5 separate regions of the Homo sapiens genome follow, and regions 2, 3, 4 and 5 are each reported to be linked to region 1. The links are microRNA targets in miRTarBase. Many come from high-throughput screens and were not tested one by one. Region 1 holds a microRNA gene; each other region holds the end of a gene's coding sequence. Distances are between the middles of the regions.

What was found. The annotated mature microRNA hsa-miR-182-5p reads UUUGGCAAUGGUAGAACUCACACU and lies in region 1 at 1,458-1,481, shown strand. An mRNA with a match to its seed (bases 2 to 7 or 8) in the 3' UTR can be bound and repressed. Matches are read on the target gene's strand: a 7mer-m8 pairs with bases 2 to 8, a 7mer-A1 pairs with bases 2 to 7 and ends in A, and an 8mer does both.
Region 2: miRTarBase lists THBS1 as a target of hsa-miR-182-5p. Seed matches in the 3' UTR shown: 7mer-m8 at 2,544-2,550.
Region 3: miRTarBase lists ATP13A3 as a target of hsa-miR-182-5p. Seed matches in the 3' UTR shown: 8mer at 1,649-1,656.
Region 4: miRTarBase lists SMARCD3 as a target of hsa-miR-182-5p. The part of its 3' UTR that is shown has no 7-base or 8-base seed match.
Region 5: miRTarBase lists RGS2 as a target of hsa-miR-182-5p. Seed matches in the 3' UTR shown: 7mer-A1 at 748-754.

What each region holds. Positions count from the first base shown.
Region 1 is chr7:129,768,777-129,771,927 of GRCh38, reverse strand. It overlaps MIR182 (microRNA 182), which reads left to right and starts at 1,436; the gene lies at 1,436-1,545. LOC105375501 (a long non-coding RNA gene) reads left to right here and starts at 2,723. Exons shown (of 3, transcript XR_927963.4): 1 at 2,723-3,151. RefSeq lists an enhancer at 422-1,285.
Region 2 is chr15:39,594,784-39,597,783 of GRCh38, forward strand. THBS1 (thrombospondin 1) reads left to right here. Exons shown (of 22, transcript NM_003246.4): 22 at 579-3,000. The coding sequence ends at 586. It also overlaps a transcript of FSIP1 not described here. Among named protein-coding and RNA genes, the nearest start is that of THBS1-IT1, 10 kb to the left of the region's middle.
Region 3 is chr3:194,403,298-194,406,297 of GRCh38, reverse strand. It overlaps ATP13A3 (ATPase 13A3), which reads left to right. Exons shown (of 34, transcript NM_001367549.1): 34 at 182-3,000. The coding sequence ends at 379. Among named protein-coding and RNA genes, the nearest start is that of GP5, 5.5 kb to the right of the region's middle.
Region 4 is chr7:151,236,541-151,239,540 of GRCh38, reverse strand. SMARCD3 (SWI/SNF related BAF chromatin remodeling complex subunit D3) reads left to right here. Exons shown (of 13, transcript NM_001003801.2): 12 at 44-145; 13 at 385-761. The coding sequence ends at 438. It overlaps CHPF2 (chondroitin polymerizing factor 2), which reads right to left. Exons shown (of 4, transcript NM_019015.3): 3 at 2,951-3,000; 4 at 719-2,167. The coding sequence ends at 860. MIR671 (microRNA 671) reads right to left here and starts at 1,120; the gene lies at 1,003-1,120.
Region 5 is chr1:192,811,443-192,814,442 of GRCh38, forward strand. RGS2 (regulator of G protein signaling 2) reads left to right here. Exons shown (of 5, transcript NM_002923.4): 5 at 1-833. The coding sequence ends at 154. Among named protein-coding and RNA genes, the nearest start is that of RGS2, 3.9 kb to the left of the region's middle.

The DNA of each region.
Region 1 (3,151 bases):
TGCTGATGTCCCAAAGCAGGCCCGCCCACCCTCGGAGAGGCTTCCAGAGTCGTGCCTCTGCTCAGAGGCCAAACCTTCCCCACCAAGCCTCTCCTTTCGGGCAGAGGTGTCCTCCCCAGCGCCCAAGCCCAGGCTGCCGGTCCGGTCTGGGTGCCACCGAGGTCCTGGACTTGGCCCTGGGGATGGCCTGGATCTGTTTGCATCTTAAGCCATCATCCCATCTCACTCCACCCTAAAGGGCAGGCAGGATGGGAGGGGTGGTGGCGGTGGCGGCGGCAGCGGTGTCATTTTGGGGGCCCTGCCAAGTCAGCTGCTCCCCCAGCCGGGGCATGTTCGGAAAATGAGCCTGCTCATGGTGGGCCCATACTGCCCAGGAGGCTTGAGGGCAAAGAGTCCCTTCCAGGCTGCAGGGGAGGCATGGGGATGCAGGGTTGGGGGCAGGCAGCCTGCACCCTTGCTAAAGGCTTGAGATGCCTTCAGGACACTTCAACACCCCTTGGGAAAGGACCTGGCCTCATCAGGGGAAGTGGGAACACGGAAGTGTGCTGCCCTTGGGTAAGTGACTGGCGGTCTGGGGAAATGCCACTCCGAGAATCAGATCGCAGCCAGCCCTCAAAGGGTCTGGGTGTGTGCAGGGCTGCTGGGTGTGTGCAGTGGGTTCTGTGGTCAGGAGAGTGCCGTCTGGATGGGAGATATTTGGTTGGTTTTAGCTTGGCCCATTCCTGCCACTGACTGATGGCCCCAGAGGCTGCCTGTTCCCGTTCCTGGGTAGAAGGTCCCAGCGCCATTGTTTGTCCACTGCTTTTAGGGAAGAGGCCTTGGCAAGTGGAATGCTCTTCCTCCCTTGGACTTGATAGGGAGGAGGAATGTTTTGTGTAGCAACTTCCCTCTCTCCCTTTGGGGTGGGCAGCCTGTGAGCTTTAGGCTCTAGGGAATGGCTTGGGAGCATCTCTCTGGATTAAATGGAGCAGTGACGTGGGCTTAGTAAATAGCAAAACCCAGCCCACATTAGCCATCTCTTCCCCAGCGCCCAGGGGCAGGGCTCTCTGGCCTGGCTTGTGCTGGTTCCCAGAGTCCCTGCTGTCAGGTGCTGGGAGTGGAGGTGCCCTCGGGTTCCCTTGGGAGTGGTGACCACAGCTCAGGGCCTGGGTTGGATCCTGGTGGCTGCCCTAGGGATGGTGTCTGCTCCATGCCTGCCCACAGGAACTGCAGGTTACAGATATGAGGGGAAGGGAGGAGAGGAGGGGGCTGAGGAGGGACCGGGACCAGCAGGAAGGGGGACTGTGGGGTTGGGCCTCCACACCAGGGCGACCCTGCAGGAAGGACCTTGTCGCAGTTGCGGGGATGGGCGCCTCTGTCCTGGCCCTGCCTGGACCATCCTAACTGTCTCTGTCTCTTCCTCAGCACAGACCGAGGCCTCCCCAGCTCCTGGGGGGAGCTGCTTGCCTCCCCCCGTTTTTGGCAATGGTAGAACTCACACTGGTGAGGTAACAGGATCCGGTGGTTCTAGACTTGCCAACTATGGGGCGAGGACTCAGCCGGCACCCTGTGCACAGCCAGCGAGGGAAGGGCCGGCCATGCTGGACCTGCTGTTCTCCGCGAGGAAGGAGGGGACTCAGGTCCCGGACTGCTGGGTAGTGGCAGAGGGCAGGTGCAGCTGGAAGTGACACTCTGTGTTTCCCTGCATCCCCCTGAGGTCACAGGTCCTCAAGTCAGCTGGGAAGCCGTTCTCTGGCCCTCAGGGGTGCTGCCAAGAGGAGCTGGGGTCCAGCTCTGCTCCAGGCTGTGGCCCTGGAGTCTGAATCGAGGAGTGAGGGAACTGGGGGATGTTTGGTTTCAGGGCTTTGGCCTGGCTCCTCTGGGTGGTGAACCTTCTCACCCTCTCCCCTGAAAGGCCCTGTTCAGGGTGGGCTCTAGGGCCCCGAGGGAGGGTCTCCTAACCTTCCACAGGTCACTAAGAGTGGTTCCTTCCTGGGCTGCTGGCTGGGAGGATGAGGGCAGGGAGGGCACGCCGTGCATCACGGACATCCAGTGATCCTGCTGAGGCCATGGAGGGCCAGATGGGATAAGCCTCCAGAGATGTGCAGGAGGAGAGTGTACAAGTCACTTGTGTAAATGCGGGACTGGCCCCCTGGGGTGCAGGTGGCCCATGGGCTGGACCTCTATGCCTCCAGCATTCCACTTCATGGATTTGTTCCTCCTGACGCCTCAGAACCTGAGACAAAGCCTCCACTCACCTTCCCAGAGCTTGTGTTTGCAGTGGGAGCTCCCCTGAGCCGGAGCCGGGCCACAGGGTCAGAGTGAGTGGCACTTCCCAGAGAGTTGGGCTTGGTGGGCAGACCTGCTGGGGAAGCCCGGCCCTGGAGTCTCCTGGCCTGCAGATGGCTCAGGAGCCAGAGTGGGAGCTGCGCGTGTGGTTGAGAGGGTGTGGGTGCAGGTGTAAGTGTGTGTGTGAGTGTGGCCTAGCCCGCAGTGAACGGTGCAAATGCAAATGTGAAGGCCTATCCCCTGCTCCCCAGCCCTCGGCCTGCCAGCCTTCCTTCTCTGGTGCTCCCCATCCCCCAAACCCCTTCTATCAGCCCCCATCAGCCCTCCTTTCTCCTCACCTGCCCTCGGAGGGTCATGTGTGGTTCCATGACCCACCAACCCCTGTGGCTGGGCAGGGCGGGGCAGACATCTATCTGGTGGCTCCAGGCTCAACCGGCTCCGTGCAGCTCACTGCGCTCTTTTGGGGAGACACAGGCCGAGTAGGGAAGGTCTGAGCCGGCAGCTCTTGAGACAGAAAGAGAAGGGAACTGTTCTCCCGCAGGCTGCACTATGCATGTTACATGCCGTGAGCACAAGCAGACGCTGCGTAAACAGGCTGGCTCTGCAGGGCATGAAGAAGGCTGCTCTGAGCTAGGGCCACACGGCACCTGCTGGGACACAGGGAGGGGTGGGGAGTCCTGGAAGATGAGTGACCCTCAGGGAGAGGAGGAGACTCCTGTTGGAGAGCACACAGATTTCCTGGGGTCTATGCCGGGCTGGAAGGCTGGCCATCTTAAGGCTGCATTTGTTCCCGAACCTAAGGACCATGGGAGCCACGCAGCCAGAGGGGGTGTGATCAGATGTGTGTTCTGGTTGGATGGCTCTTGTGGCTGTGTGCAGAATG
Region 2 (3,000 bases), not on the chromosome of region 1:
CATGCCATCACAGCACGAGTTAGCATTCCCAACTTTTCCCTGTATACAAAGAAGGGAGAGGAATGTTGCTTTCATATTGGCATGTTAAATTAATGTTCACTATTAAACTTAGCATTTTTTTTCCTCATTCTTTTTTACTTAGTCATTACTTAAGCTCGCTGAGTCCAACACTGGCTCTACCACAAAATAAGTGCTTAATATATATTTACTGGGCCAAGGCCAGATACCTAAAAGATCAATGACAGTAGAGAAAGATGGTTGATTTTACTCAAAAAAATCTAAATTATTAATGTAATTTTTGAGTCCAAATTTTTAAAATAAGACTCCCTAAACTGTTAACATTGAAAGCCTTTGGAAAGCATAATATATGTTCTGGAAGGTTCACGCTGTGTCGGTCTCCTAGCATCAATGTCAGCTAATAAAATTAAATGCTAATGTGCTTGAACAACCTTAAAATTAGGCTTTTGTCATTAGAAAAGTAGAGCTATTCCTATGTGGTTAACTTATTAACTAAGATGTCTATGCTTTTATGAATTAGTTTTCATTTGTATATTTATTTATATTTGTTTATTTAACAGATCCCTAATCATCAAATTGTTGATTGAAAGACTGATCATAAACCAATGCTGGTATTGCACCTTCTGGAACTATGGGCTTGAGAAAACCCCCAGGATCACTTCTCCTTGGCTTCCTTCTTTTCTGTGCTTGCATCAGTGTGGACTCCTAGAACGTGCGACCTGCCTCAAGAAAATGCAGTTTTCAAAAACAGACTCAGCATTCAGCCTCCAATGAATAAGACATCTTCCAAGCATATAAACAATTGCTTTGGTTTCCTTTTGAAAAAGCATCTACTTGCTTCAGTTGGGAAGGTGCCCATTCCACTCTGCCTTTGTCACAGAGCAGGGTGCTATTGTGAGGCCATCTCTGAGCAGTGGACTCAAAAGCATTTTCAGGCATGTCAGAGAAGGGAGGACTCACTAGAATTAGCAAACAAAACCACCCTGACATCCTCCTTCAGGAACACGGGGAGCAGAGGCCAAAGCACTAAGGGGAGGGCGCATACCCGAGACGATTGTATGAAGAAAATATGGAGGAACTGTTACATGTTCGGTACTAAGTCATTTTCAGGGGATTGAAAGACTATTGCTGGATTTCATGATGCTGACTGGCGTTAGCTGATTAACCCATGTAAATAGGCACTTAAATAGAAGCAGGAAAGGGAGACAAAGACTGGCTTCTGGACTTCCTCCCTGATCCCCACCCTTACTCATCACCTGCAGTGGCCAGAATTAGGGAATCAGAATCAAACCAGTGTAAGGCAGTGCTGGCTGCCATTGCCTGGTCACATTGAAATTGGTGGCTTCATTCTAGATGTAGCTTGTGCAGATGTAGCAGGAAAATAGGAAAACCTACCATCTCAGTGAGCACCAGCTGCCTCCCAAAGGAGGGGCAGCCGTGCTTATATTTTTATGGTTACAATGGCACAAAATTATTATCAACCTAACTAAAACATTCCTTTTCTCTTTTTTCCTGAATTATCATGGAGTTTTCTAATTCTCTCTTTTGGAATGTAGATTTTTTTTAAATGCTTTACGATGTAAAATATTTATTTTTTACTTATTCTGGAAGATCTGGCTGAAGGATTATTCATGGAACAGGAAGAAGCGTAAAGACTATCCATGTCATCTTTGTTGAGAGTCTTCGTGACTGTAAGATTGTAAATACAGATTATTTATTAACTCTGTTCTGCCTGGAAATTTAGGCTTCATACGGAAAGTGTTTGAGAGCAAGTAGTTGACATTTATCAGCAAATCTCTTGCAAGAACAGCACAAGGAAAATCAGTCTAATAAGCTGCTCTGCCCCTTGTGCTCAGAGTGGATGTTATGGGATTCTTTTTTTCTCTGTTTTATCTTTTCAAGTGGAATTAGTTGGTTATCCATTTGCAAATGTTTTAAATTGCAAAGAAAGCCATGAGGTCTTCAATACTGTTTTACCCCATCCCTTGTGCATATTTCCAGGGAGAAGGAAAGCATATACACTTTTTTCTTTCATTTTTCCAAAAGAGAAAAAAATGACAAAAGGTGAAACTTACATACAAATATTACCTCATTTGTTGTGTGACTGAGTAAAGAATTTTTGGATCAAGCGGAAAGAGTTTAAGTGTCTAACAAACTTAAAGCTACTGTAGTACCTAAAAAGTCAGTGTTGTACATAGCATAAAAACTCTGCAGAGAAGTATTCCCAATAAGGAAATAGCATTGAAATGTTAAATACAATTTCTGAAAGTTATGTTTTTTTTCTATCATCTGGTATACCATTGCTTTATTTTTATAAATTATTTTCTCATTGCCATTGGAATAGATATCTCAGATTGTGTAGATATGCTATTTAAATAATTTATCAGGAAATACTGCCTGTAGAGTTAGTATTTCTATTTTTATATAATGTTTGCACACTGAATTGAAGAATTGTTGGTTTTTTCTTTTTTTTGTTTTGTTTTTTTTTTTTTTTTTTTTTGCTTTTGACCTCCCATTTTTACTATTTGCCAATACCTTTTTCTAGGAATGTGCTTTTTTTTGTACACATTTTTATCCATTTTACATTCTAAAGCAGTGTAAGTTGTATATTACTGTTTCTTATGTACAAGGAACAACAATAAATCATATGGAAATTTATATTTATACTTACTGTATCCATGCTTATTTGTTCTCTACTGGCTTTATGTCATGAAGTATATGCGTAAATACCATTCATAAATCAATATAGCATATACAAAAATAAATTACAGTAAGTCATAGCAACATTCACAGTTTGTATGTGATTGAGAAAGACTGAGTTGCTCAGGCCTAGGCTTAGAATTTGCTGCGTTTGTGGAATAAAAGAACAAAATGATACATTAGCCTGCCATATCAAAAACATATAAAAGAGAAATTATCCCTAAGTCAAGGGCCCCCATAAGAATAAAATTTCTTATTAAGGTCATTAGATGTCATTGAATC
Region 3 (3,000 bases), not on the chromosome of region 1:
CCACCACGCCCGGCCAAAGCTGCCTTTTTTTAACATGGATTTTTTTTTCCCCCATTCGTTGTGCTCAGAAGTCATTTCCTCTTATTTTTCTCTGCTAATGTGTGCTTTAACAAACCTGTTTAAAACGACAAGCCTTTAATCAACTGGGGTGTTTTGTTTTGTTTTTTTCTTATTTTCTTAGGAGTCAGTGGATCGGTGGGGAAAATGCTGCTTACCCTGGGCCCTGGGCTGTAGAAAGAAGACACCAAAGGCAAAGTACATGTATCTGGCGCAGGAGCTCTTGGTTGATCCAGAATGGCCACCAAAACCTCAGACAACCACAGAAGCTAAAGCTTTAGTTAAGGAGAATGGATCATGTCAAATCATCACCATAACATAGCAGTGAATCAGTCTCAGTGGTATTGCTGATAGCAGTATTCAGGAATATGTGATTTTAGGAGTTTCTGATCCTGTGTGTCAGAATGGCACTAGTTCAGTTTATGTCCCTTCTGATATAGTAGCTTATTTGACAGCTTTGCTCTTCCTTAAAATAAAAACAGAAAAATATATCGTCCTAACAGTTAAATTAACAATCAATCCATAAAGTCCTATATCTTCATTCAGCAACCCAAATATTACATACATTTCCAGAATTTTCTTGATTGTTACTTTCAGTGATATTCTTTATATTGGGTACAGGAGAAGTTTGGTGTTTGGTAGGTTTTTCAACATTAGTTTTTGAGACTAGTTTACCTCTTCACATTTATGCTCACAACCCTCTTGTTAGAAAAGTCTGTGTTTATATACAGGCTGTAAGTTTGTGATTGATAAAAAGAAGATGAGTGTTAATTAGCCTCCAGTGAAAATATACTGAAAGCCTGTTTTCATTTGATTCCAATGTTTCTTCCAAAGAATTCTGTATAAACATATGCCAATTCCCTATGATGGTCTAGAGTTAGGAATGAGTGTTTATGGTGTTGCTTATAGAACAACTCAGGTAATCTCCATTTCTGGTTTTATATTTTCTGTACAAACTGCCTGGGTTTTATTTTTCTAATCAGCAAGGTGCTTCACTGCCTTCTTGAGACGCCTCTCAAAGCTCTTAAATGGCTCCTGTGCTATGTGTGGTGTTGGCAGTCTAATTTGCTTCTGTTAAATGTTGTAGAACCTTTTTCACTAGGAAATAAGATTCATTTCTTTCGGCAGTAGATGTAGATTCATCTTTTAACGTTTCTTCAAATTTGTTTCTGTCAGGCTTTGTGTTATTTTAAATGGTTTTTTAAAATTTTCTTCTATGTTTTCAATTACCTAAAGACATAGGATAATAGTTTTTTTTAAGTTAGAATTTTACCTCATAAAATTTTTTGAGGTTTGATGTATGTCTCTGTCTTATCAATAATGAGGCTTAAAAAATACTGGATTTGAATGGCTGCCGTTTTTTCAAAGCAATATGAATTTGATGAGTTTGTTTTATGCCATTAGGTGGCGCCAGAGGTCAGAACATGTCTATTTTGAATTGGATCGTTACAAATGAGCATATTTGATGCGGAAATTTCTGGGAGAAAAAAAATTGAGGAAATAAAGTTAAAAAATTGACATTCATTGAGCCAAAAGAGATGTGGAGAAACATTTTTCACCTTTCTGTTTGGCCTGATTAACATTTAAATTCTTGCCAAAATTAAGGTAACTTTTAAAAAACACCTTTTATAGGTGGATCCAGCAGTCTGGCAACGCCCACAGTTACCACAACACAGAAAACTGATCGTGCTATAAAATGGACGCTAAACTATGAAAACAGTGTGACATTGTTCTCTGTTCTTCCAGAGCCAGTAACATGCTTGCTCGTGCTTTCTACTTCTAGCTGATCATTCTTTTCCCAACATATATTTACAAATTTACCAAATTTTACCTAGAATTTTAGGACCAAATGGTTCTCACTCTTTATGCTGCAAAGACCTGGATGATGTTTGGTAACTATAGAAAAATAGAAATTACACTCAGGATCACTGTTACTGCTATTGCCACTGATGATTCCTGCAAAAATATAATCGAAGTTTTCCATCAAATGTATAATATGCTATTAATACACATTAGATGATAACAGTTGTTCCATGAATGATTCTATGAAGCTATGCATCTTAGACCTCTTGAGCTGTGAATTAGCACTATTTTCTATAGTTACTTATTCTCTGGATCATTTTATAATTTCCATATTAATTTCAAATATGCTCGTGTTATTCTTCAGTGATTTCCACAATTGTGCATTTTATTCTTTGGTTTAAGTACTGAAGCATATAATGAAAGTAATTGCTAAGTAGCAGCTTAAAAATTCAATTATCCGATTGTATTTAACATCTTTAAGAGCATGATCATAAAGAGCTATTTTTGACACCCCCCCCCCACTTTTTTAACATTTAGAGTTAGTAAGGGTTTTATATCTCTTCTGTCCATATTGTTTTCAAAGGAATGAGGTGTTTAGGTGGCTGGAAAAGCATTTGTAGGAAGTTAGATTTGAATATAGACAAGGTGGGTTATTCACGTTGAGAATGTTATTTGAAGAATGCCTGTGAAGCCAGGTGTGGGTTCTACTCAGTGCCATAGATAGACTGAGTCTTCTCTCGTAGGTTACCATTACATAGTAATTTTGATTCTGAATTTCACATTAAATTATTTGAGTTTATACAGACCTAAATTTTAAAATCTGTACATATATTATTTTGATGTATTAAGATGAATATTGCTGATTTAAATTTTATTTATGCACATACTTAAAGGACAGAAATGTCTGGGAAAGTAATTGTTAAATAATGATATGTAACTTTTTAACTTTTTAAATAAATAACAAGATTTTTAATGTGTGTCTCCCTCAGGGTTGTTTAAAGTTTTTTTTCTCCCTCAAGTATAAATAGTGGTAACTATATGTTTTGTATCTTCTAGCACCAACTGCTGTAAAGCAATGCTGCAAATAATGCTTGAATACAAGTGGCTAAGCCAACAACAGAATAAATACTTTTATAGTAG
Region 4 (3,000 bases), 21 Mb from region 1:
GAGGGGATTCAGGGCTCAGGGCTCACCCCACGCTCCCTCCCAGGTGATGACAGATGTAGCCGGCAACCCTGAAGAGGAGCGCCGGGCTGAGTTCTACCACCAGCCCTGGTCCCAGGAGGCCGTCAGTCGCTACTTCTACTGCAAGGTATGCAGGGACCCTTGCCCTGAGGCTTCCCCATCCTCAACTCCAAGAGAAACCTCCCTGTTCAGCTTGTGGGCAGCCCTCGCAGCTCCCCACAGTAAAGCTTCACCACGCTGCCTCACCATGCAATGGCCCTCCCTGCTCCCAGATGCTCTTTCAGGGCAGGCGGTGTCAGTAGGTGGGATTGTCCTGATCACTCACCAGAACACTGACACCTGCTCCTGTTCTCACTTCCTCTAAAGATCCAGCAGCGCAGGCAGGAGCTGGAGCAGTCGCTGGTTGTGCGCAACACCTAGGAGCCCAAAAATAAGCAGCACGACGGAACTTTCAGCCGTGTCCCGGGCCCCAGCATTTTGCCCCGGGCTCCAGCATCACTCCTCTGCCACCTTGGGGTGTGGGGCTGGATTAAAAGTCATTCATCTGACAGCAGCCGTGTGGTCATTGGAAACTGGGGAGGGGAGGGGGAGAGAAGGGGAAGGGAAGAAGGTGGGGAGGCAGTGGGTCCCTCGGGACGACTCCCCATTCCCTTCCCTTGGATTCTTCTCCTTACTCAATTTTCCCTAGACCTAAAAACAGTTTGGCAGAAGACATGTTTAATAACATTTTCATATTTAAAAAATACAGCAACAATTCTCTATCTGTCCACCATCTTGCCTTGCCCTTCCTGGGGCTGAGGCAGACAAAGGAAAGGTAATGAGGTTAGGGCCCCCAGGCGGGCTAAGTGCTATTGGCCTGCTCCTGCTCAAAGAGAGCCATAGCCAGCTGGGCACGGCCCCCTAGCCCCTCCAGGTTGCTGAGGCGGCAGCGGTGGTAGAGTTCTTCACTGAGCCGTGGGCTGCAGTCTCGCAGGGAGAACTTCTGCACCAGCCCTGGCTCTACGGCCCGAAAGAGGTGGAGCCCTGAGAACCGGAGGAAAACATCCATCACCTCCAGCCCCTCCAGGGCTTCCTCCTCTTCCTGGCCTGCCAGTTCACCTGCCAGCCGGGCTCGGGCCGCCAGGTAGTCAGCGTTGTAGAAGCAGCCCTCCGCAGAAGCCTGCCGGTCAAATCTCCCCCCTATAGGAGCCCCCCGGGAGGGGTCAGCACCAGGAGGGGAGGGGGGGTCAGGGCCAGCCCCCGGGGGCCCTGGGGGTGATCTCTGTGGTGACAGGGCAGGATTGAACTCCTGGAAATGGACTGGAAAGAAGGCCTGCCAGCCAGAGATGGCATTCATGCGACAGCGGTTGAGGACTTCGGGCCCAGGCCTTGTCCACACGGTGGTAAGGAAGAAGAGAGTGTCCACAGGGTGCTTCTTCGAGACCACGTCCATGAGTCGCACCTGGGAAGGGGCCTCTGCTCGCACAGCGAGCCAGGCCAGCCTCGTCCCAGGGTACCGTCGCTCTAACTCCGCTGCTGCAGCCTTCACCCCAAGAAATGGGTCTGGAGCTCCACGGCCACCTTCTCGTGGCCCGTAGACCAGCAACAGGGTGAGCAATGCATGTTCTCGTGGCTCCAGGACATTGGCTGCAAAGGCCTCGAGGAAAGCCGGGGCTGCAGCAGCTTCAGCCACCAGGAGTGGCAGCACCAGCTGCACTCGGGTGGCCTCAGTGACATAGGGCATAGGTAGGATTTCCACCCGGCTCAGTGGCCGCAGCAGGCTGACCCTGCGAGCCAGGGCCCGCCGGTGCCCACGCTGTGTCACACATTCCAACAGCAGGTCCAGGGTGTACTCCATGCCCCGTGCTGGGTCGAAGCGCCGATAGCCGTTGAGCAGTCGCTGCTTCTGGAAGCGCAGGCGGGGCTGATAGCGCCGATTGAGCTGCTCCAGGGCAGTCTCCAACGCATCACCCACGTCCGCCCTGCTAGCCCCCTGTAGTGGGCACTTGGGAGCCCCATCTGCACAGGAGAAGGTGTGCTGCTCTGTGAAGTAGTCCCAGCCCAGCACCTCAAAGCGAGAGTGTGGTGTGAAAGGAGCAGGGAGCCCAACGGGCCAGCTCAGCCCTGCCTCCCCTTCGGGGGTCAGCACGGTCAGGTTCCGGATCTGAGCCTGGGTTGGAGGGAATGCACCTCACATTAGTGCCAGCTCCAGGATCCTACCCAGCTCCAGCTGCCTGGGCTCTGAGATTCAAACAGCTGAGCTCTGTCCTAACTCCATCAACACTTAGTGAGGGGTCCCTTGCTAATCACTGAATCCCTTGTACGTTATTCTTCACCTCTAAAATGCAGATGGAATAGGAATCATACTCACCTTACACAAATGCCATGAGAAGGAGGTGGAAAATGTGCTTTTTGCACAGGTAAAAGTATCTTGAAATAGAAGCTCAACAGCCTTTCTCTCCTACACCCAAAGGACTCACATCCTCTTCATAATCACACCTTTGTTTTCATCTACACTCCACCTCTGCCAAGCCTGACGTTCAACTTGAGAATTCTCCCTTCTACCCTTGGGCTTTCTTGGGACAGTTCTAGAAGTAAAGAAACTTCAGAGTTTTTGCCTCCTCAGTGGACAGGCACTATTGAGGAGGAGCTAAAACTATTCTGTCTGAACACTGTGCGGAGCTTCCTGATCCTCAGAGTCTACTTGCAAACCCCTTTAGCTGCATTCAAGTTGTGCTGGGAGCTTACCTTATGATTGCTTTGGACCCCCAAAGACCTTTGTCCCTGTAGTTGCTTTAAATTTAAGTATGGTCGGCCTCTTCCTGCCCTGCCATTATACAGGGCCTAGCCCAGCCCCACTGCCAGCTGCTCGTTCATTGCACGCCTGGACATCTCAGGCTCTCTCTGACCCTCTGACTGCGGTCCTCTGCCCACCTGCTCCTCTTCAGCTCACCTGCAGTTGTTCTATTTCACTGTAAGCCCGCTCCAACTCCAGAGCGCTGA
Region 5 (3,000 bases), not on the chromosome of region 1:
TATACAAGAAGCTACAAGTGGCTGCTTTACAACTGCCCAGAAAAGGGTATACAGCTTGATGGAGAACAACTCTTATCCTCGTTTCTTGGAGTCAGAATTCTACCAGGACTTGTGTAAAAAGCCACAAATCACCACAGAGCCTCATGCTACATGAAATGTAAAAGGGAGCCCAGAAATGGAGGACATTTCATTCTTTTTCCTGAGGGGAAGGACTGTGACCTGCCATAAAGACTGACCTTGAATTCAGCCTGGGTGTTCAGGAAACATCACTCAGAACTATTGATTCAAAGTTGGGTAGTGAATCAGGAAGCCAGTAACTGACTAGGAGAAGCTGGTATCAGAACAGCTTCCCTCACTGTGTACAGAACGCAAGAAGGGAATAGGTGGTCTGAACGTGGTGTCTCACTCTGAAAAGCAGGAATGTAAGATGATGAAAGAGACAATGTAATACTGTTGGTCCAAAAGCATTTAAAATCAATAGATCTGGGATTATGTGGCCTTAGGTAGCTGGTTGTACATCTTTCCCTAAATCGATCCATGTTACCACATAGTAGTTTTAGTTTAGGATTCAGTAACAGTGAAGTGTTTACTATGTGCAACGGTATTGAAGTTCTTATGACCACAGATCATCAGTACTGTTGTCTCATGTAATGCTAAAACTGAAATGGTCCGTGTTTGCATTGTTAAAAATGATGTGTGAAATAGAATGAGTGCTATGGTGTTGAAAACTGCAGTGTCCGTTATGAGTGCCAAAAATCTGTCTTGAAGGCAGCTACACTTTGAAGTGGTCTTTGAATACTTTTAATAAATTTATTTTGATAAATAATATTGAACACTTGGAGTCTAGATGTGATTTTATTTTTGATAACTGGAAATGTGGCAGATAAAGGGAAAACATCTTTATAGTAAAAGACATTTCAGTTTTTGTGCCTGCCCAGTGAGAATTGACAGTCTTCAGAACTGAGAAATGATAGTTGCAGACAGATAATTCTTTTTTTAAAACCTATAAGCATTATGCAGACCTAAGGAAGTCACATCCTTAGAACCACTGCATTTATGCTTTCTAATCTTAAAAAAAAATCAAGCTTGTTAATGAAACACTGATCTAAAGGATTCTGTATCTAAGTACCAGCTAAATATGAGAAGTAAATGTAATGGAGACAAGCACAAAAATTATTCACATAATTAAGCTTCTCAAATGAAGAAAGAAGCCAAATAAGGTCAATGTATGCCTGTCTTTATTTACTTTCCATTGGTTCCAAGCTCCCCCACAAGTACCAGCATGGGCTTCCAAGATACATACCTGAAATTGTTCCCTTCCATAATGTATCAATAGAAAATCTCAGAATTTTCCTGATTTTCATGCCTTCATTTGGCCAACAAAGAATCTGTTACTTTAGGTAATGATAAAGTCAAAAGAAGTGCGCTTTCGTTTCTTAGACTTAAATCCAGAAATGTGCTTTTTTCCACTTGAGAGAGGAAGCCCTTGAATCTGTTTTCAAACTGGCTAATTAAAAAGCACCCCTTCCTCAGCAGGCTGTTTTTTTCAATGTCCTTGATTATGGTCTTAATAAAAAAGGAGGAGGAACCCTGATTTTAGAGTTGGAAGAACTGACGCAAAGTAATCATTTCTCATAGCTTTGTGACCTTGGGTGTCCCCATTGTCTTCTCTGACTCTTCATTTTAGACCTTCCTGCCTTTCTGGTTTTATAAAGTAGTAAGGGACTTTAGAAATCATAAAGCACTAAGAACATTTTTTTTCTGATTTGCCAGAAGAAAAATTGACCTCCAGTAGTTTACTGTTTCCATTGTGATTGCACTAATTTTCACCTTAGCCAGAGTTTCTGGCACCAACAGACACAAGCTCTATTAGAGAGACTGCCTTGTCTACTGTATCACAGCAGCCAGAATAATACATAATAGGTGCTCCATAAATATTGATTGAATAAATGAATCCAAAGAGTCATTGAAACAAATATTTCTTTGGAGAATAAATGTGTCAGGTCTAGCATAATCCTTAATTTGGAAAGATTTTGACCAACAGAGGAACTCAGGAGTCATGCCATATATCATCCTATTTGTCACCAAGTCATTTATTTTACTTCAAACCTCTCTACAGCCTACTCTCTGTTACCACTCTGATCAAAGACACCACCATCTGATGCCTAGATTACTGCAATAGTCTCATCTCCTCTCACCCACTCTTCCCCCTCTCCCACACCAATGTGTTCCTGCCTTTTAACTCTAGGGATCCCTTCAAGACAAATCTGATCTTGTCTCCAGTTGCTTATAAACACCTTGACAGGTTTTGCAAACAATTAGGATAAAGACAGTATCTCTAATATGGCCTAACACCTGCATGGCTTGACCCCTCCTTTTGTTCCAACCTTGACTCTACCACATTTCTCCCAGCTCTTTCTGCTAAGCCACACTGTCCTACTTTCCTAGCAGGTGCCATGCCCACTGGCCTCACAGGACCTTAGCACCTAATAGTTCCTCTGCATGGAATTCAGTTTTAGCTCTTACTCATGCACATATCAATGCAATTGCCACTTCCTTAGGGAAGCTTCCCTGACCTCCTTACCTCGGTCAGATCCCCTTTTAGATGGTCTTATAGCACCAGGTTCTCTAATTTAGAGCACTTAATGGAGTTGTAAGTTCTCATTAATTTGTCTGATTATTTAATAATTCTATATCTTCCTCCACCAAATTGTAGGAACCACAATTTGAGGACCCTTGGCCTTTTTCCGCTCACCACTGAATCCCAACACCTAGCATAGTGCCTGCTGTACAATGGGAGCTGCATAAATAGTTGTTGAATGAATGGATGAGTATTAAAAGATCTTGCAAACAAATTTTGATGAAACAAGGATCTACCAATGCACAAGCAATTAAGGACAAGACTTTTTTTAAACCCCACTGGCTCAAATGTCTGAAAATATCTGTAGAACTTTTTTCTTTGGCAAAAATAAGTAACTACCTCTTAGTTGGCAAAGTCTC